2 separate regions of the Homo sapiens genome follow, and region 2 is linked to region 1. Evidence: fine-mapped expression QTL. Tissue or cell type: B cells. Region 1 holds a variant in brackets; the other region holds the start of a gene. All regions are shown on one strand. Distances are from middle to middle.

Region 1 (10,043 bases):
GGCTTTCTCTGCTCTGTACTTTGTTCCCTGAGTGGCACTAGGTAAATGAATGGTAAGGGAAAGTGAACTGCGTTTAGTGAATGCCTCTCTGTGCTGTGGGGCAGCTTCCCTGGGCCCCCACAGGTAATCCTGCTGCAGAGGCTTCTGTCAGGTCAGAGCTTAACAAAGATCAGACCAGAGAGAATTGTAGAAAAGATGCTATAATTTTTTCCAGAAACATATGTCCCAGATGTTTTGCAGAGCCTTAACTTAAGACAGTGGTTAGCCTGGAATGTCAGAGAAAGAATGTGTATGTGTTATATCACCAAAAGTTTAGAAATGTTATATCTTTCATAGGTTCAGGCTGCTGTGTACTCATTCAGAGCCAGGCTGAGACATGTGTTATTGCATCTTCCTGATCATTCAGATTACTCTGGTAAACAAGTGCATGCTCTGCTGTGTGTTACTGTTATGGCTAATTTGAGTCCTCAAGGTCCCATTAGCAGAGGGGGCTGGTGGCACAATTTCCCTGCTGTGCATTTCTGTGACATTCAGAAAGATAGTGCGCCAGTCCCAACTCAAACTGAAGAAGATGAGTAGCTAGCTTGTCCCTTCCAGTTTCTCTTAGAACACTCTGAATGCAACTTTTACTGTAGGAGACTGTTCATGAAAAAATTAATTGAATCAGTCTTCAAATGAGAGGCAGGGAAACCACACATCCTGCCCACACCTACTTCCCTGGAAGATTTCTATCTACAGTCCAGCTATCCTAAAAGGTCTCAGTAGCTTGCCAGGTCAGAATGTCTAACTGTTTCAAAAAGGATGCCCAAAAATCATGACAGGAAACTTTAGCCTGGAACGAAGAGTGCTATGAAACCGTGTCAACAAGAGGAGTGGTGACAATTGTGAGTTGAATAGCAAGATGTCCTTGCTAGGAAGGAGATGACCCAAGCTTCCCCTTATAAAAGCAACTTGGAACACATCATTCTACCTTTCAAAGATACATGGTAAGTTAAAATTGAGAAACGTACCCCTTTACTATACAGTTCCTTGGGTTGAATGAGTGCTTTTTTTTTTTTCTGAAAAGCCCCATCCCCCAAAAGGCATTTGATAGCAATGTATTAAGCACCTTTTACCAACAATAAGAACATCATTGTAAGTGTTAAAGAAAATTGTCCTTCTCCCTACAGGTCAGCGTTTGAGCCTCACGGGGTTTCTTCCCATGACTTCAGCCCTGGCGCACAATGAGCAGACACCCAAATCTTGTCCGCCTTCAACATTCTTTTGTTAGGGCCCATCCCTCTAGCACTCTAAAAACAAATCATCTACAACTGTGTTCCTGCTGCCCACTCATTTTAAACATGAATTTGACATAGCTCCTCCTTTTCGCACTGGAGTAGTTAACTAATGCTAGCCCACTAGCTTCTATCATGTCCCTCAAGCAACAAACTTTGGGATCATTTTTGCTTTTTCACTCTTTCTTTACCCAATTATAATTGGTTGCCTTTTTTGTTTCATTATCCCCAGAATTTTCTCGTCTTCCTCTTCTCTCCTTGAAATTACTTTTACTGTTCCTCTCCTTTGTCATCACCTATTGATTCTGCCTTTGACTTAGTTCATATCTACCCTTTCCTTTTCAGTCCCATAGTTACAACCTAAGCCAGCTCTTCAACAAAAATTTCTTGCTTGATGAGCAAGTTTTATTGAGGAACTGAGGAAACACCTGTGGAAGGAACAAATGAATGATTTTGTTAATTACTTATGTTTGTCTTCAGAGACTTCCCCTCATGCTAGTTCTGTATACTTGTTTCACTTTTTTCTTTCTTTTTTTTTTTTTTTTTTTTTTTTCGAGACAGTCTCGCTCCATCGCCCAGGCTGGAGTGCAGTGGTGCAATCTCACCTTACTGGCTCACTGTAACCTCTGCCTCCTGGCTTCAAGCGATTCTTGTGCCTCAGCCTCCCGAGTAGCTGGGATTACAGGCATGCACCACCACACCTGGCTAATTTTTGTATTTTTAGTAGAGACAGGGTTTTACCATGTTGGCCAGGCTGATCTTGAACTCCCAACCTCAGGTGATCCACCCATCTTGGCCTCCCAAAGTGCTGGAATTACAGGTGTAAGCCACACGTCCGGCCCTTGTTCCACTTTTTATAATATTTACACCACAGAGAGGTTAAGTAATTTATTAAAGATTATAGAACTAGAAAGTGACAAAGCTCAGATTTGAACCAAGGCATTCTAGCTCCAGCCAGGCTTACCTTAATAGCTACGTTAGGTGTTTTTTTTTTTTTTTAAAGAAAAAAGAAAAAATGTCCTCAAAAGGAAATAAATGGGGTAACAGGGTACTATGACGGAGTAGAAGGTAGTTGGTGTTCTAGATAGGGAAATCAGGAAAGGCCTTTCTAAGAAAGTGGTATTTTACCTGAGTTCCAAAGGATAATGCCTTAAATATTTGTCCTCCTTCTACTTCACTCCCAACTTAGATTTTGCCCCACCCACAAAGTCTTTGTCTTCATTTAGCTTGAGCAAATTCTCTAAATAACTCTGTGACATAGCCACCCATACCAAAGGTTAGTGCTGAGTTATATACCATCGAATTGCAGTCCTTGTTCTTAGAAACACCTGTGGAAGGAATAATGAATGCTATTGCTGATTATTTATGTTTGTCTTCAGGGACTGTACCTCATTCTAGTTTTGTATCCTTGTTCCACTTTTGATAGTATTTACACCACAGCTCTGTACAAAACATAGGCACTAATTAAATACATAAATTATTTGGCCAGGCATGGTGGCTCACGCCTGTAATCCCAGCACTTTGGGAGGCCAAGGTGGGTGTATCACAAGGTCAGGAGTTCAAGACCAGCCTGGCCAAGATGGTGAAACCCCATCTCTACTAAAAATACAAAAAATTTGCCGGCGTGGTGGCGGGCGCCTGTAATTCCAGCTACTTGGGAGGCTGAGGCAAATAATTGCTTGAACCAGGGAGGTGGAGGTTGCAGTGAACTGAGATGGCACCACTGCACTCCAGCCTGGGGGACAGAGCGAGACTCCACCTCAAAAAAAAAAAAAGAAAAAAATTATAGCTTCAGACTTGTCTAGGCTCACTTCAGTTATATTTTATCTAGACCAGTGCTTCACAAACGTTTTGATCTCAGGACCTCATTATACTAAAAAATTATTGAAAACTGGCTGGGCACAGTGTTTCACACTTGTAATCCCAGCACTTTGGGAGGCCGAGGTGGATGGATCACCTGAGCCCAGGAGTTTGAGATCAGCCTGGGCAACACAGTAAAACCCCATCTCTACAAAAAAAATACAAAAATTAGCCAGGCATGGTGATGCACACCTATAGTTCCAGCTACTTGGGAGGCTGAGGTGGTAGGATCACTTGAGCCTGGGAGGTGGAGGTTGCAGTGAGCCGAGATCATGGCACTGCACTCCAGCCTGGGTGACAGAGTGAGACCCTGCCTCAGAAAAAAAAAAAATATATCCCAATGAGCTTTTGTTTGTGTGAGCTATATTTGTCAATATTTACCATTGTAGAAACTAGACAAAAATTTTAAACGCAAGAATATAAAAGGACATATTCCACTGGCTGTCAGAACAATATCATCACACATCTTGTAGCATCTGGAAAACTATACCATCATAAGAATGACAAGGAAAAGGCAAATAACATCTTAATATTACTATGAAAATAGTTTTGACCTCATAAACCCCTAAAAACGTCTTGAAGACTCCCCAGGACCTTGGACCACATTTTAAGAACTGCTGCTTTACATAATGTCACATCAGCGAATTCATCTCTTCTTTTTTTAAAATAAGAGGCAGGGTTTCACTATGTTGTCCAGACTGGTCTCAAACTCCTGGTCTCAAGGAATCCTCCTATCTTGGCCTTCCAAAGTGCTGGAATCACAGGCATGCGGCACTGCGCCCGGCCTATCTCCTCTTTAGTCAGTCAGTGATCTGTGTATTAGTTTTATCGCTGTGTAAAAAATTGCCACACATATATTGGCTTAAAACAATACATTATCTCTGTAGGTTAGAAATCCAGGCAAAGAAGGTTTTCTGCTCAAGATCTCAAAAGGCTGAAATCAAGATGATGGCCAAGGCTGAGTTCTGATCTGCAACTCTGAATCCTTTTCAGATACCTTCAGATGGTTGTTGGCAGAATTCAGTTCCTTGCAGTTGTAGGATTTGTGGTGGCCTGCTTCCTATCTTTTAAGGACTCACATGACTGAGTCAGTGTAATCTCCCTTTTGATTAATTCAAGGTCAACTGATTAGGATCATAATTACGTCCCTTTTGCCATGTTAATGTAACATAATCAGAGGAATGACATGTCATGATATTCACAGATCCCACCCATACTAACGGATAGTAGATTATCCAGGGCATGTAAATCAGGGGGTGGAATATTAGGGGACATCTTTTTTTTTTTTCTTTAAGACGGAGTCTCACTCTGTCACCCAGGCTGGAGTGCTGTGGTGCAATCTCAACTCACTGCAACCTCTACCTCCCTGGTTCAAGCGATTCTCGTGCCTCAGCCGCCTGACTAGCTGGGATTTCAGGAGTGCACCACCAGCCCGGCTAACTTTTGTATTTTTAGCAGAGATGGGGTTTCACCATGTTGGCCGGGCTGGTCTCGAACTCCTGGGCTCAAGTGATCCGCCCACCTCGGCTTCCCAAAGTGCTGGAATTACAGGCGTCAGCCACCATGCCCGTTCTGGGGGCCATCTGAGACTTCTGCCAACCACAATCAGCTAGATGTTTTTTGTTTTGTTTTGAAAAAATAATAATAATAACCTTTCACTTGGGCCACCAAACTCCTACCTTAGTATCCAAGTTCTCTAATTTTTTTTTAATATGGGAAATCCACATCTCCCAAACTCTATCCCTTTTCTGGCAAGTTACTTGACCTTTCTGTAAAATAAGCATAATGTACCTGCGTTAGAGTTGTAGGGAGCACTAAACATTCAGATGATGTATGTACAGTGTTTAGCACAGAGCCTGCTAAATAGTAAGCCCTCAAGCCCTCAGTCACATTTGTCTCCATCAGTGGTAGCTCCCCTGGTGTGTTAAGGAGGCTCTTCTTTCTTTTTTTTTTTTTTTTTTTTTTTTGAGACAGAGTCTCGCTCTGTTGCCCAGGCTGAAGTGCAGTGGCGCGATCTCGGCTCACTGCAAGCTCCGCCTCCTGGGTTCACGCCATTGTCCTGCCTCAGCCTCCCGAGTAGCTGGGATTACAGGCGCCTGTCACCACGCCCGGCTAATTTTTTTTTTGTTTGTTTTTTTTGTATTTTTAGTAGAGACAGGGTTTCACTGTGTTAGCCAGGATGGTCTCCATCTCCTCACCTCGTGATCTGCCCGCCTCGGCCTCCCAAAGTGCTGGGATTACAGGCGT[G/A]AGCCACTGCGCCCGGCCAGGAGGCTCTTTTTAAACTAAGGGCAGCAACCCCCTAGGGTGGCTATAGTCCAAGAAAACCCAGAAAATACATGCTGCCAAGGATTTGGAGAAATTGGAGCCCTCCTACATTGCTGGTAGGAATGTAGAATGGTGCAGCAGCTGTGGAAAACAGTTCAGCAGTTTCACAAAAATCAAACATAGGGTTATCATATGACCCAGAAATTCTACCCATAGGTGTATACCCTGGAGAATTAAAAACATGTATTTACACAAAAACTTATATGTTCGCAGCAGCGTTATTCATAATAACCCGAAAGTAGAAACAACCCAAATGCTCTACTAATGAACAGATAAACAAAATGTGGTATATCCATATAGTGGAATATTACTCGATCACACAAAGGAATGAAGTACTAATACATGCTACAGTGTGGATGAACCTTGTAAACAGTAGGCTAAGTTACAGAAGCCAGCCACAAAAGACAACAAATGCATGATTCTATTCATATGAAATGTCCAGAGTAGGCAAGTCCATAGACAGAAAGTAGCTTAGTGGTTTCCAGGGGCAGTGAGAAGGGGAAATGGAGGGCAACTCCTAATGGGTATGAGGCTTCTTTTGGAGGTGATGAAAATGTTCTGGAATTCGACAGTGGTGATGGTTGTACATCTCTGTGAATATACTAAAAGCCACTGAATTGTATACTGGGTGAATTTTATGGTATCTGTAGACATTCCAATTGACAGTCACATCTTAGTATAGACTTTGAGTCATCTCACTGGAGGCACTAGACATGCAAGAGGAGAAGTCTCCAGATTATTCCAGCCCTGCCATTTGAGTCACTCCAGGCTTTCTGGTCTTCCCAGCTGAGGCTCAGACACCTTGGAAGAGAGAAAAGCTCTCCCTTCTGTGCCCTGTGATTTGCTGATCCACAGAGTTCATAGGCATGATTAAATGGTAGTAGTTTTCCACCACGAAGTTTTGGAATAATTTGTCACAAAGCAATAGGTAATTAGAAAAATAACCTTTCAGAAGGAGACAGTTTCTCCAAAGCTTGGGTACTTTCGCTTAATATTAAAAGAGGAAGAAATTTTTTGCCTGCCAGGCAAAAGGCAGAAGATGTATTTCTACACCATGGATAGGAAAATGATTTTTTTTCCTCCTTTCTCCTTGGCCTGCATGCAGCAGTGAAAAAGAAACCAATGGATTCTTTTAAATCTTTAACCATATGCAGATGAATAAGCACATGGTTGGACTTGATTCCTAATCTCTTTTCCTTTCCTGTATAACTGAGATTTTTTTCCACTCTAATAAACTTGAGCATTTAAACAGAAGTCATGTGTTACATATATGACGATTAGCAGCAAGAATGTAGAAAAGGAGATAGTGGCTGAGCATGAAGCTTTAATTAATACCCAAGCCATTCAACTGAAAATGAGAACAATGTTTCTGGCAAGGAGATGTAAAAAAAAAAATTCTGTCCAATTTGAAATCATTTTTTTCCTCTCTCAATCTTTTTAGGATAATGATTTAAAATTCAATGACTGTAAAGAGAACTTTTTTTTTTTTTTTTTTTGAGATGGAGTCTTGCTCTGTCACCCAGGCCGGAGTGCAGTGGCACGATCTCAGCTCACTGCAACCTCTTCCTCCTCCTGGGTTCAAGTGAATCTCCTGCCTCAGCCTCCTGAGTAGCTGGGATTACAGGTACCCGCCACTGCGCCCGGCTAATTTTTGTATTTTTAGTAGAGACGGGATTTCACCATCTTGGCCACGCTGGTCTCGAACTCCTGACTTCATGATCCACCCACCTCGGCCTCCCAAAGTGCTGGGATGACAGGCGTGAGCCACCGCACCCAGCCCAAGAGAACTTTTTTAAGTTTTCAGTTGAGCTCCAGTGACTGAAGTGCAGTAATCTTTGTATGACATCAAGAAGGCCCACCATCCCCATGTCTGGGTCCCCACTGGACTGCCAACCCCCAGAACGTACACACTCAGAGTAGGAAGGGAATACAGCCCAAGGAAAGCCAAGCAGCCGCAGGAGGAATGGACTCTGGGGACAGTCTCTTCCCGCCTCTCAGAAAAAGGGAAAAGAAGTTTCATTCTTCAAAGAAAAGGGAGAAAAACAAGACTTTTATGGAAATACCATATACAGAGTTGGCAGAAATTCAGCAAGGAATAAAAAGTATCCAAAATGTTCCCTTATTCAGTTCCAGTCTGGCAGACAAATTAAAAGAGGTTCAATTTTCAAACCGATTTGCCCTGAATTATCTGGACCTAAAACCATGCAAGGCATCTAAAAAGACTCGTGGTTTGGTCCATTGACAGCCCAGTTGAACAAGCGGAGTCTAAAGCAGCCAGATGGAAAAAGCTTAAAATGTTTTCATCAAAATCTTATAAAAAACAAAGTATTTGTGGATGAAATGATAAGAGGCCTGAGATTTGATTGAAAATCCATTGCCAGAGTGGGGCAGGAAGGAGAGTTTATAGATAAAACAGGATTAGCCATGCGTGTGGAAGCTAACTGGGCAGTGGGTACATGGAGATTCACAAATAAGCCCATTATATTCCCTCTATTTCATATACGTTTCAGCATTTCCATAATTAAAAGCTCTAGAAATATATATCATGTAAGAAATTTTCAGATGCTAAAAAGCCAAAGAATGTATTGATTATAGATAAATGAAACAAACTAGGTTTTTAAATGAGAACAAGAAAGGACACTTAAAAATTACTTTTATTTCATGCTTAACTCATGAAAAAAAAAAAAGTGGGCCGGGCACGGTGGCTCATGCCTGTAATCCCAGCACTTTGGGAGGCCGAGGTGGGTGGATCACGAGGTCAAGAGATCAAGACCATCCTGGCCAACAAGGTGAAACCCCGTCTCTACTAAAAATACAAAAATTAGATGGGTGTGGTGGCACGCGCCTGTAGTCTGAGCTACTCGGGAGGCTGAGACAGGAGAATCGCTTGAACCTGGGAGGCAGAGGTTGAAGTGAGCCGAGATTGTGCCACTGCACTCCAGACTGGCGACAGAGTATCAAATATTTTGAGACTCCATCTCAAACAAAAGAAGAGAAAAGGATCAGTCTGCAAATCTGAACCTGAAGAGGTTTCTCTGACTTGAAATAGTCTATGTTGGGCCTTTCAATACACTGTTATCGAGTTTGAAATGTCACCATAATCTTTATCCACCTAAGGACTGTGCTCCTCATTGTTTGGTAAATATTTGAGGTGTTCCAACATCAATTTGACAAGACCTTTACAGGAGACTTAAGGGCACTGACTCCTATTGAAGGATCCCTTTCTCCAAGGGCACACTCCCCGCTCGATGTCAGAAGTGCTGTGTGTGCACTGACTCATTTAATTCTCAGACCCAAGCAACTGAGGCCCACACTTTAAAGACACATATTTGCCACTTTCCTCCCTATGGGGTTGGAAGGGCCACACTTTTCTAGACCAAACTCTGGCTGCCCAGGCCCCAAAATTCCCTGCCTCAGTGGCCCGAGCCTGCTTCTAGGATTTGCCTGGGCCCCTTGCCCCATGGAATGCAAGTGAACTGTGCCCCTGGGCTGAGAGATGGCATGGGTGGTTTTCAGTGGGGAATGGTGTGGCAGGAGTTAGGACCTGCAAGCTGAGGTGTGGAGGGCAGGATGGAGCCAGATGGAAAGAGAAGGGAGGGGGGCTGTGGCAGAGGTTTTTGTGTACACTCTTGCCAGGGGTCCTGGAAATGTTAGGGGTGGACCTAATGAGTTAAGTATTATCATTACCACCTTTTCTGGAGAAAATAAAACTGAGAAAGCTTGAGTATCTGCTTAGGGTTGCACAGCTGGCTAGTGGCAGAGCCAGGGCTTAGCCTGTCATTCTTGTGATTCCATGACTCTTCCCTTTCATGCTCCACACAACAAAATCCACAGAATCTGCAGGTACCCGTGTCTCTCATGAGACACAGAGACAGTCCTGAAAAGCTCTTCCATCAGATAAGTTGCTTTTCTACTCCGTACTACATTATCGGTGCCAACTCAGAAGGTGGCAGACACAAGTGGTGGCAAAGCCTCATCCAGAAAAAATTACCATGGGAAGTTGAATCAACAGAAAAATATTTGATACAAGAGTATGACAGTTAATCCTAGGATTTCACTTTTTGTTCTGAACTTCTGACCTACAGCTGCTAGTCCAACCACGGAACATCTAAAAGATACTTTAATTAGATTTTAACCCTGTCGAGCGAGCATTTGGCCAATCAAATAAGTAGGTCTTTGTTTATTTCCTTTAAACTCTAAAGCCAGGAAATTACTTTTGATATGTTAAGACCCCTGCCTTCCCTCCAAGGACATCCTGAGACATAGAAATAAAATCTAGCCAAACATATTTTCAATTACTATTCATAAGGAAACACCCATCACATTATAGGTAATTTGAAAAAGCAAATTTATGGAAAAAACTGTTAAAATATTACAATATTTTTTAGAAGGCATAATTTGATGTACTTAAAACCAAGTAGTCACTTTTTGATATGTTTTGGATACTAACCGCAAGTATCTAAAGTTAACAGTAATAATAGTAGTGAGTGCACAATGCTGAGTCTTTTACATGTATTAATTCACTAAATCCTCACAGCAGCCCTAGAGAGTAGTTAGTATTAGGTTGGTGCAAAAGTAATTGTG
Region 2 (10,043 bases), 49 kb after region 1:
CCTGGCCTCATGTGATCCGCTTGCCTCCCAAAGAGCTGGGATTACAGGTGTGAGCCACTGCACCAGGCCAGGGGCATTTTTATAATAAATTCCATAAAGCATCCCCCCTTGCCCCCCTCAAAAAAGGGTGACTTCAGATTCTTCAGGAGTCTGGGAAGTTGGTTTTTGAGCAATCATTCTAAACCAGGCCTGGTTTCAAATCCCAACTCTGCTCTCTGTTAACTGTTTGATATTGACCGAGTTGTGTACCATACTAAACCTTAGTTTTTGATTATAAAGTAGGAATAGATAATATTGATTATTATAGGGTTATTGCAAGTGATGCCTATAAGTGGGGTGACTGTGATTTAGCATCTCAACGGGACACTTTTGAGGGTGAAATGAGCACACTATGAAGGGGCTTTATCAGGACTGCCTGAAACAAAAAAATATTAATAGTGCCCTTTCACTCTCAAAAATGCCCCTATTTGGGTGATGAATTTTGATCTCACTGCCTGTTATGTGCCTCTAATAGTGCTTAGCACATAGCAGGTGCTTAAAAGTCCCTTAGCCTCTGAGCCTTTTAGGGTCCCTTCTGCCTTTACCATAACTGATCCATACCTTTGTGGTTCTCTTTAATTCTCTGGCATTGTGGACTTGTTACAGGAACAGGGTCCCGATCCAACCCCAAGAGAGGGCTCTTGGATTTCACACAAGAAAGAATTCAGGGCGAGTCTGTAAAGTGAAAGCAAGTTTATTAGGAGGAATAAAAAAATGGCTACTCCAGACTGAGCAGCCCCTTGGGCTGCCGGTTGCCCTTATTTATAGTTATTTCTTGATGATACGCTAAACAAGGGGTGGCTTATTCATGCCTCCTTTTTTTAGATCATATAGGGCAACTTCCTGATGTTGCCATGGCATTTGCAAACTGTCATGGCGCTGGTGGGAGTGTAGCAGTGAGGACGACCAGAGGTCATTCTTGCCGCCATTTTGGTTTTGGTGGGTTTTGGCTGGCTTCTTTACTGAAACCTGTTTTATCAGCAAAGTCTTTATGACCTGTACCTTGTGCTGACCTCCTAACTCATTCTGTGACTTAGAATGCCTTAACCGTCTGGGAATGCAGCCTAGCAGGTCTCAGCCTTATTTTACCTAGCCCCTATTCAAGATGGAGTTGCTTTGGTTCACATGCCTCTGACAGATTTACAGGGTGAATTCTTCAAAACACTTTATGTTATTATTTTCGTGGCAAGATGTATGGCAATATGACCCACAAATTTGCCTCTGTGAAAAAATACTTTTCTACAACTCTCCAACAACTGCTTTTAATTAATAAAAATTTGGAAAGGTTGAGTTGACCTCCTTAACAGCATTTATTTCAATTGAAAGTGTTCTGCATATTACAGAAACTTCCAGGGAAAGTACTTAAGATTGCTGGGCCACACCCTGGTAGTTAGTTTGCAATGTGACATTTTACTTAAACTGAGCATTTACTGACACATTCTACTGTTAGAACTTGGTCAGGATTTTTGAAATGTATCCTAACAGTGACAAGTTAAATACCATAATAAGAAAACACACAATCCAATAAAAATAGGCAAAAGATCTGAACAAACATTTCATGAAAAAGATACACAGATGGCAAATAAATACATGAAAAGAAGCCCAACATCATTACGTATTAAGGGAATTCAAATTAAAACCATAATGAGATACCATACTCCACATCTATAAGAATGACTAAATTTAAAAAAACTGACCTACCAACTGTTGGTGAGGAAGCAGAGGAACTGGAACTCTCATACGCACTGGTGGGAATGTAAAATGGTACAATCATTTTGGAAAAAGTTTGCAGTTTCTTAAAAAGTGAAATATACATCTTTCACTTGATCCAGCCATTCCATTTATAGGTATTTATGGGAGAGAAATTAAAGCATATGTCCATACAAAGACTTGTACATGAATGTTCATAGCAGCTTTATTTGCAATAGCCAAAATCTAGAAACAACCAAAATGTTCATCAATAAGGGAATGGGTAAAATCACTGGTGTATCCCTACAGTTGAATACTACTCAGTAATAAAAGGAATGAACTAATGATACATGCTACAACGTCAGTGAATCTCGTAATAATTTTGCTGAGTGAAAGAAGCCAGATAAAACAGAATATACAATGTGTGATTCCAATTATATAAAATTCTAGGAAATACAAATTAATGTATAGTTACATAAAGCATATCAGGGGTTGCCTGGTGGGGTGGAGAGGTAAGGAAGACTGGGAGGGAGGGGCTACATGAGGAAACTTTTGGGTATGATGAATATGTCCTTTGTCTGTTGTGGTGATGGGTTTTTAAATAGGTGTATCTATGTGTATATGTGTGTATCAAACTGAACACTTTAAATATACTTTGTTATATCAATATACTTCAATAAAGCTGTTAAAATTGTCCCAAATTTTAAGTTTTTCTCATTTGATTCTATAGTGCCACAGTAGGTAGTCAGACACAAGCAGAGCAGGAGAGGGCTCCCCGCTCCCACCAGGAATGTCACGCAACCATCAGGTGGTCAGGCAGTTGTTAAACTGTCTCTCTAAAATAATAACTGGTCACAGCCGGCACCAGGGAAAGGCAGTCTCCCAATGGCTAGAAAATACCTACAACTGGTGATCAGCAGCTTCTGGATAGGATCTTAGGAGTTGGCTGAGTGGGCTCACAGGTGTGAACTAAGAGGCAAAATGGTGGCATTTAACTGGTACTCATATATGACCTTCTTCTAGGAACACTTGACTAGTAAGCGAAGAATGCCTCAAGTGAGCATGCGTACAACCTCAGTTAACACACTGAGCATGTGGTCCCTCCCAAGTGCTGGCAGGCCACTGCACATGCAGACAGCCCACCTCAAGGGAAGAATCAGGGGAAAAGGGACACAACCCCCTGGAAGCATGCCAATGTATAAAACCCCAAGTCAAAGGTCAAGCAGCGCACTTGAATCTCTCAAGTTGCCCGCCTGGCCCTCTTCCAAGTGTACATTACTTCGTTTCATTCTTGCTCTAACTTTCACTCCTGCTCTAAAACGTGCCTTGGCCTCTCCCTCTGCCTTATGCCTCTCGGTAGAATTCTTTCTTTGGAGGAGGCAAGAATTGAGGTTGCTGCAGACCCATACAGATTTGCTGCTGCTAACACACTTTGGTGCATGAGACTCAGATACATTCCCTAGTGCTAACAACAGCATTACGTATTCTTACACAATGAGTTAAATTAGAAACGAAGGAAGTCTCTGGAGTACTGATGGAATCCAAGAGGACCAACAATATTTAAATAGTAAGTTCCAGTGGCAATGTCAGAAAGAACTTCAAGTACCTTAGGGAGGATAACAGTTGATCAAACAAACAAATGTAGAAAATTTCATGTTTACTTTAAAGTCACGTAAGTGTACAATGGCATTAAGTACATTTACAATGTTGTGTGACCACTGTCACTACCCATCTTCAAAACTTTTTCATCATCCAAAACTGAAATCCTGCACTCCTTAAAAAATAACTCCCCCTAAACAATAAAATTCATGGTTTTCAAGACAAAATACAATTCTTGAACATTTTACAATAAGCTAAAGTAGATTAAAATGACTTTGAGCATACAACAGGAGCAGTCAGGCTTAGATTGCTGCAAAAAGGCTTTGCAGGCTGGACACCATGATTTGTACCTCAAATCTGGCTGCTATTTCCCACACTCCTAGGTCCCAAAGAAATGTGGGTGAGGTCCTGCGGTTGACACACCGTCACTGTCATACTACTGGAAAAACAGCCCAAACTGTTAGCCTCAATGATATTGGGTCAATTGTGTCATCTTCGTGTGGGAAGAATGCCCTAATTATCATTACTCCCTTTGGACAAAATTAGCAAGTCATTTATAAATCATTTCACTTTCCTCCCTATTTGCCTCCTCCCGCTTCCTTCAGGTTCCATCCCTCAAAGTCATTGGGAAAAGCCTTGCAAACTGGATAGCAGTTTTGTGCATTTCCGGTTCAAGCTGCCTTACTCACTTTTTTTTTTTAATTTAAAAAAACTTTGGATTTTTTGTAGAGACAGGATCTTGCTATGTTGCCCAGGATGTTCCTGAACTCCAGGCCTCAAGCAATCCTCCCACCTCGGTCTCCCAAAGTGCTAGGATTACAGGCATGAGCCACCACACCTGGTTCACCTTACTCACTTCTATTCCAGGACGGTTCAACTATGATGTTTTGGCTCCTCTTCTCAAGCAGCTTTCCACACCTGGTTCCATGATCTCTTCTGGCACAGTAGCTGGTATTTGGCAAACATAGGTTTCATCCTGGGATCTCAGGGATTGAAATCTGTCCTAGGTGTGCACCAGAAAGTGGTGGCAAGAGATGAAGCTTCGGAGGAGGCTGACCTCGGCCAGGATTCTTAAGTCTCAAAGTTTCAGCTTTCTCACCCCTCAACGGACATGAAATCTACCTATTTGTAACTCCAGGGAAGTAAATGAGATAATGTTTGGAAGATATCTAGTCTACCAGCTGCTCAGGCGGGGGGCGAAGGTTCTGTTCCCTGTCCCTTCTCTATCAAATGGCTTTAAAATCAGAAGAAAGTATTACGGGTAGGAAATGGGACTGCGAAAAAAATGGAGGCTGATTCTGGCCTAAAGGATACTTATCTCTATACAAAGGGCTTCTGATTCAAAGAGGCCCCGGGATTCAAAAACACAAGCAGAGCTACACCACGTGGGGTTTGGGACGAGCTGAATTCCGGATAAAGATGCCTGTAAAGAGGAGTTGATGCGAATCCAGAAAAGCACTTGAAATGCCCAGGCTTTGCATGGCACATTCCCCAGGATTTTTTCGCACCGCATTTAGAGGTTTAGACGGAGTGAGCTCGAATCAGGCCAAAAGCCTTAGGTTACTCCTGGGCGGCAGCGGGGCAGAGGTCAGATCAACAGGTGTGGAAGGCTGCGAGGTGAGGGAAGAAGCAGGTGTCGGTGGAGGCCCCAGTTCCTCCGGCCCAGAGGCTCCAACGCTGCTATTGGTGTTCCAGCAGCGGGCGGAGGGGTCCTGCCCGGCATCTGGGCGCGCTGGGCCCAGAGCCCGGGAGGAGGCAGACGGAGGCGGCGGGTCAGCGGCGGGCCAGCCCCGGTGGGCTTCCGCTCCCCTCCGCCGGCCCGGTCCGGCCCGCCGCGGAGGATGCCTGGAGGTTGACGTGAATGGCCTGTGGCTGGGAAGCCCCCAGGCGCCCTGCCTAGCCCGGGGGCGGGGCCGCCTAGCCGCCGGCCCCGGTGGCGTGAGGGCTGGGGCGGGGGCCGGGGACCTCGCGGGGAGGGAGCGGGAGGGAAAGCGGCCCCCGCGGCCCTTCAATTGGCCGCACCGCCCCTCGGCGCAGAGGCGGGAGGAGGCGGCCCTCCATTGGTCGGGCCCGGCGGCCAATCCTCGAAGGCCCAGGCGGAGGCGGGGGCGGCCTGTGGGGAACCGAGGTGCGGGCGGCGAGCGAGGCAGCCGGGTGCTTCGCAGCGGAGCTCGAGGCTCTGTAGCACCCAGTTGGACCCAGTCGCCCAGGCACCGCCCGCGCCCCGCGGCCGTCTCCTGCGCCTCCCAGAGGAGGGAGTTCGAGCATCCCCCGCGGCGGCCACTCCTCGGGGCCAGGAGCGGGGAAGCGAAGTGCGAGAGACCCCGGACCCCAGCGCTGTCTCTTCCCGCCGCCCGAACCACCATGACCCACTTCAACAAGGGCCCTTCCTATGGGCTCTCGGCCGAAGTCAAGAACAAGGTACGCCTGGCTCGGGCGGGCGCGGGGGCCCCCGGGGCACCCTTGGGCTGGCCTGGCGCTGGGCCGTGCTTCGTTTGCTCTTCGCGCTGTGGCTCACCGTTTTCCTGGAGAGGGGCCGTCGAGGCGGCGCGAGCGTCTCTGCCTGTCCCGGTCGCGTCCAGTCCCCGGGCTTGCGGGGCCGGCTCCCGGGCACCCGCCTGGCTTTGTTCCCGCGCCGTGGGACAGGACTAGTGGCTGGCGGTGGGTTCCCGGGCGCCTGGAGTCCCGCGGCGCCAGCCTTTCCGGCTGCGGGGGTCTCGGGGGCCGTTTGGTGACTGCAGAACGCGCCCTCCGGGAAGGGGGCGCTCCTGCGTGGCCACTCGCCCTTAGGCGGAGCCCGTCTGCGCGGCCAGGGACCCGGCGAGCCGCTGCCGCAGCCCCCGCCATCTGCCCGGGCCCCGGGTGCTGGCGGACTCCGCGCCTCCCCACGGGGAGAGAGACCGCCTAATGTCCCGCCGACCCCAGGGGCCCCGAGGAACGGAAGCCGGTCCGGGACCCATCACAGTCTCCGATCTCGGTGCCTGGGAGGCATTTGGAGGCAGATTGCTGCTGCTGCTTCTGCTGTTGCTTTTGCGGGAAATGGAGACAAAGCCTGAGCGCGCCACTGTGCGAGTGATATCTGCTTAGGCTTGAGACTTTTTATGAAACACTGAGAAGTTTGAAGTACATTAGACTTTCACGACATAAAGGATTATTTTTGTGGGTTGCTTTTGTTTGGGGCTTGTTTGCTGAGGCGGCTTATAGTTTGGAGCGATTGGGATTTGGTGACGCTCAGCTTTGCCACTGAGCCCAAGAATGCGTTAGGTTTATCTTTAGGACTTTTGGCCTGGGAAAGAGATGAGAGGCGTCCCCCTCCCCAAATCCTCTCCTTCCTTCCTCCCTCCCTGCATTCCAAGCCCATGACATCAGGGGTTTCTGGGGGGAGAGACCAGCCAATCGGCGCGGAACTGTGCACAGAACGCTCATTGTCTCCTTTCTGCTGTTCTGGCCAAAGCGCCACAAAGGAGGGCTGCCTGTGGTTTAATTCCCATTAACCTCCCGGGAGCCCAAGCATGTCAGGATTGCCACCGCACCGTCCGACCGCTGGTGGAAGGCACTGGCATTGTCAGAGCTGGAACATCCCGGGGCTGCGGGGGTAGGCGGTGTGAAGCGAATTATGTAAAGAGGTAATGAAGCGCACCGTTGTCAAACCCCAAGGGAGAGTTGTGGCTCTTGTCTCCCGCTGTTAGTCTGCACATCATACTGTCTTTGAAGCAAGGAGTTGATTTTAGTCTATGTATCTAAAGTTGAAATGTTTAGGTCCTTTACCTTTTCAAACGTGTTGCCCGTATTAGACAACAGTTTGCTAACAATTTTTTTAGAGAGCAGAAAGGTGAATGGTTTGTGTATGATTGAGTGCAAACCTCACCAACTGAAAAGTTTGTAACAAGTTACTGTTTCCTTCCTTCCAGGATTTACAAACCGAACTTTAGGAAACTTCAGAGGAATGGGCATGTCCAAAATGTTGGATGTGATGTGATACTTTGGCCTGGTTGTGCACATTCATTGTAATTCCCCCCAGTGATTCTTGGCTGGCAGCAGTTGAGTCTCTACTACCTTTTGCATTGTAAATGAGGTACTGATAACGTTGGCAGCCCTTCAAGTGACTTACTTTTCTTGGATGTTAATAATATCCATGCTAATTTCTTTTTTGCTGACTAATGTAGCAGCTTTTGCCCTTTTCCTGCTTAATACTGAGCAGATCCAAGGAAATGCATACACAGGCTAGATCACTGTAATTATTGTAAATATTTAAAAACGGTAAAACCTCAGTTTTTAGAACCTTTGGAAAGTTAGTTATGAAAGCTGTGGATTTATCCCTTTAAGCACCAAACCCATTTTTTAATAACCCGTTTCATTTTTGTAGTCCTTTCAGACAGTATTCTTTCATAGGAAGTCTTTTGATCTTAACAGCAGAGCAGTCCTGTAAGGTGAGGAGGATTGCTGGGATTATCCAACATCATTTACAGATCAGTACACTGAAGCTCAGAAAGATTTGCTCAAGGTCACAGAAGTTGGACTATTCTAAGAATTTTAACTCTAAAAGCGATGTCTTAGTTGAGTGAAGTACTTAGGGATGTTCTACACAAACTCTGCTGTCTGTCGCCTTCCCCCCATTTTTTTTTCTTTCTTTTTTGAGACGGAGTCTTGCTCTGTCGCCCAGGCTGGAGTGCAGTGGCGCGATCTCAGCTCACTGCAACCTTCGCCTCCCAGGTTCAAGTGATTCTCCTGCCTCAGCGCCCCGAGTAGCTGGGATTACAGGTGCCTGCCACCATGCCCGGCTAATGTTTGTATTATTTAGTAGAGACAGGGTTTTGCCATGTTGGCCAGGCTGGTCTCCAACTCCTGACCTCAGGTGATTCCCCCTGCCTTGGCCTTCCAAAATGCTGGGATTACAGGCGTGAGCCATGGCGCCCAGCCCTTCCTCCCATTTTTGCTACCCACCTGTCACTTCTTGACATTGTGATTATTTATGTCATACTGTTTCTGATCTGTTCTGGGCCTGGGAATCAAATAGCCATGTTTGCTAGGCCTTTGTATGAGATGCTGCATTTTGACTGAGGCCTCAGGACTCCCGGGTGAAAGGTGGGTATATACAAAAGTGACATTGCGTGGTTTGACACCTTTTGATTCCTTCCTGCTTTTTCTTTATTGCATAATTGATACATTGCTTGAATGCTAGATTCCCCCCATCTACCCCCACATCTCATTTAACAAAGAAGTATAGAAACATCCTGGGGAGACAGTGTGGAGTGGACCTGGGAGTCTAGCATATGTGAGTTCTAGTCCCCGTTCTGCCACTTCCTGCCTTCTGTGATGCTGGGCTAGCTACTTGACATCTCTCTCCTAGCTTCTGTTCTGTAGAATGGGGGAAAACAATAGTTGCCACCCCCAGACACCATGTTGTGGAGATGTGTCTGGCTTATACTCAACTCAGTGACTGTATTGTAGCTATTAGCTCTTAGTAACAGAAAATTAGTTTTTAGTATTATATTTCTAAGATTTGTATGTCCCTGCCTCTTTAAGTATTTGGTTTGTATTAATACCTTTTGGTCTTGTTATATAATATTCTAGCTGTAAAAGCATTTCATCAATGAATTGAGGAAGTCTCTGATTTTAAATACTTTAATCAGTAAAATTTCAGAGAAAAATCTTTAAGACATTTGATTGGTAAGATGATAATACATGGCAGAACACACAAGCTTACTTTTTTTAATAGGCAAGAAGATGTGTGAAAACAGCCTTAAAAAAAAAAAGCCTAAGAATTCCAGTCTTTCAGCCTGGAATATGAACAAAGTTTCTTTAATAACAAAGAAAAAAATGACACCAAATGATCAATAACTTAGAGTTTACAAAAACTATCAGAGAGTAAAAGGGCCAGGGAAAATGCAGACACTGGTAGGGATGGTTCGGTGGAGGATGGAAACACTCATAAAATAATGGGCCCTACAGGTATTCTACAGGTTGAACCAGGCCCTTGAATGCATCTTGGGAACCAAAATGAAAAGTGAAACAACTCTGTGCCTCGTAAACCATGAAAAAACATAACAGGTACTCAAGGGAAGCACAGTATTTCCTGGCAAAATGTTGGAGTTGGGGGTAGTTTCCCGTAAAGTTGGATGGGAAGAGAGGACGCAGTGAAGCATGTCTTCATCAGGTTTAGAGCAAATGCCGCAGGAACCTTTCTTACAGGTCTCAGGGAAAGTGGAAAAAATAAATTGACAAATGGGGAGCTGAAATAATCTTACCTCGGTATGTTTTTTTGGGAGGAAGCTAACTGGAATATTAAGAAGCATGGAATTGGAATGCACATTCTTCCAGTCTTCTGCCCCCTTGGAATGTCTGATTTGAGCAAAGCAGCTTCCCACGGGATCTTCTTGATTACAAAATGGTATTTCTCAACACCTAAAAACCTTCTTGAAAGGCTTATTACCAAAATCTTTGGTTGTTGAAGTTAAACAATCATACAGTAATAATTAGATAGGACCAGTGTCCGCGAAGTCCTCCTAGCTTGTTTGCCGGGTGCGCTTTAGACGCACAGCTGCTCTGAGGGTACTTCTGATCAGAGTAACCCAGGGTGACCCAGCTATAAATTACACTCGAGGGTGGTTTGCCTTGTCTTGCTGGTAGAGCACCAGAATCTTGGTAAAAATGTGTTGGTGGGCTTAGCTTTTTTCTTTTTAAACTTGGAAGTTCAGAAATTGGTTTTTAATTAA

Which allele goes with the higher level. Alleles are on the strand shown, and positions count from the first base shown. SD is a standard deviation of normalised expression in the study named.
In carriers of allele A in region 1, the expression in B cells of the gene that starts at base 5,476 in region 2 tends to be lower than with G alone (moderate effect, 0.42 SD a copy in Fairfax 2012).

What was found. PIP is the estimated chance that this variant, and not a neighbour inherited with it, causes the effect.
Region 2: CNN3 starts here. The variant in region 1 is fine-mapped to the expression of CNN3 in B cells (Fairfax 2012, PIP 0.95).

Annotation. Positions count from the first base shown.
Region 1 is chr1:94,971,075-94,981,117 of GRCh38, reverse strand. ALG14 (ALG14 UDP-N-acetylglucosaminyltransferase subunit) reads left to right here. Exons shown (of 4, transcript NM_144988.4): 4 at 1-6,713. Among named protein-coding and RNA genes, the nearest start is that of CNN3, 49 kb to the right of the region's middle. The variant G/A (reference allele first, on the strand shown) is at 5,382.
Region 2 is chr1:94,922,543-94,932,585 of GRCh38, reverse strand. CNN3 (calponin 3) reads left to right here and starts at 5,476. Exons shown (of 7, transcript NM_001839.5): 1 at 5,476-5,748. The coding sequence starts at 5,692. It overlaps CNN3-DT (CNN3 divergent transcript), which reads right to left and starts at 6,226. Exons shown (of 3, transcript NR_168377.1): 1 at 5,846-6,226; 2 at 601-714. RefSeq lists silencers at 4,959-5,838, 5,939-6,368.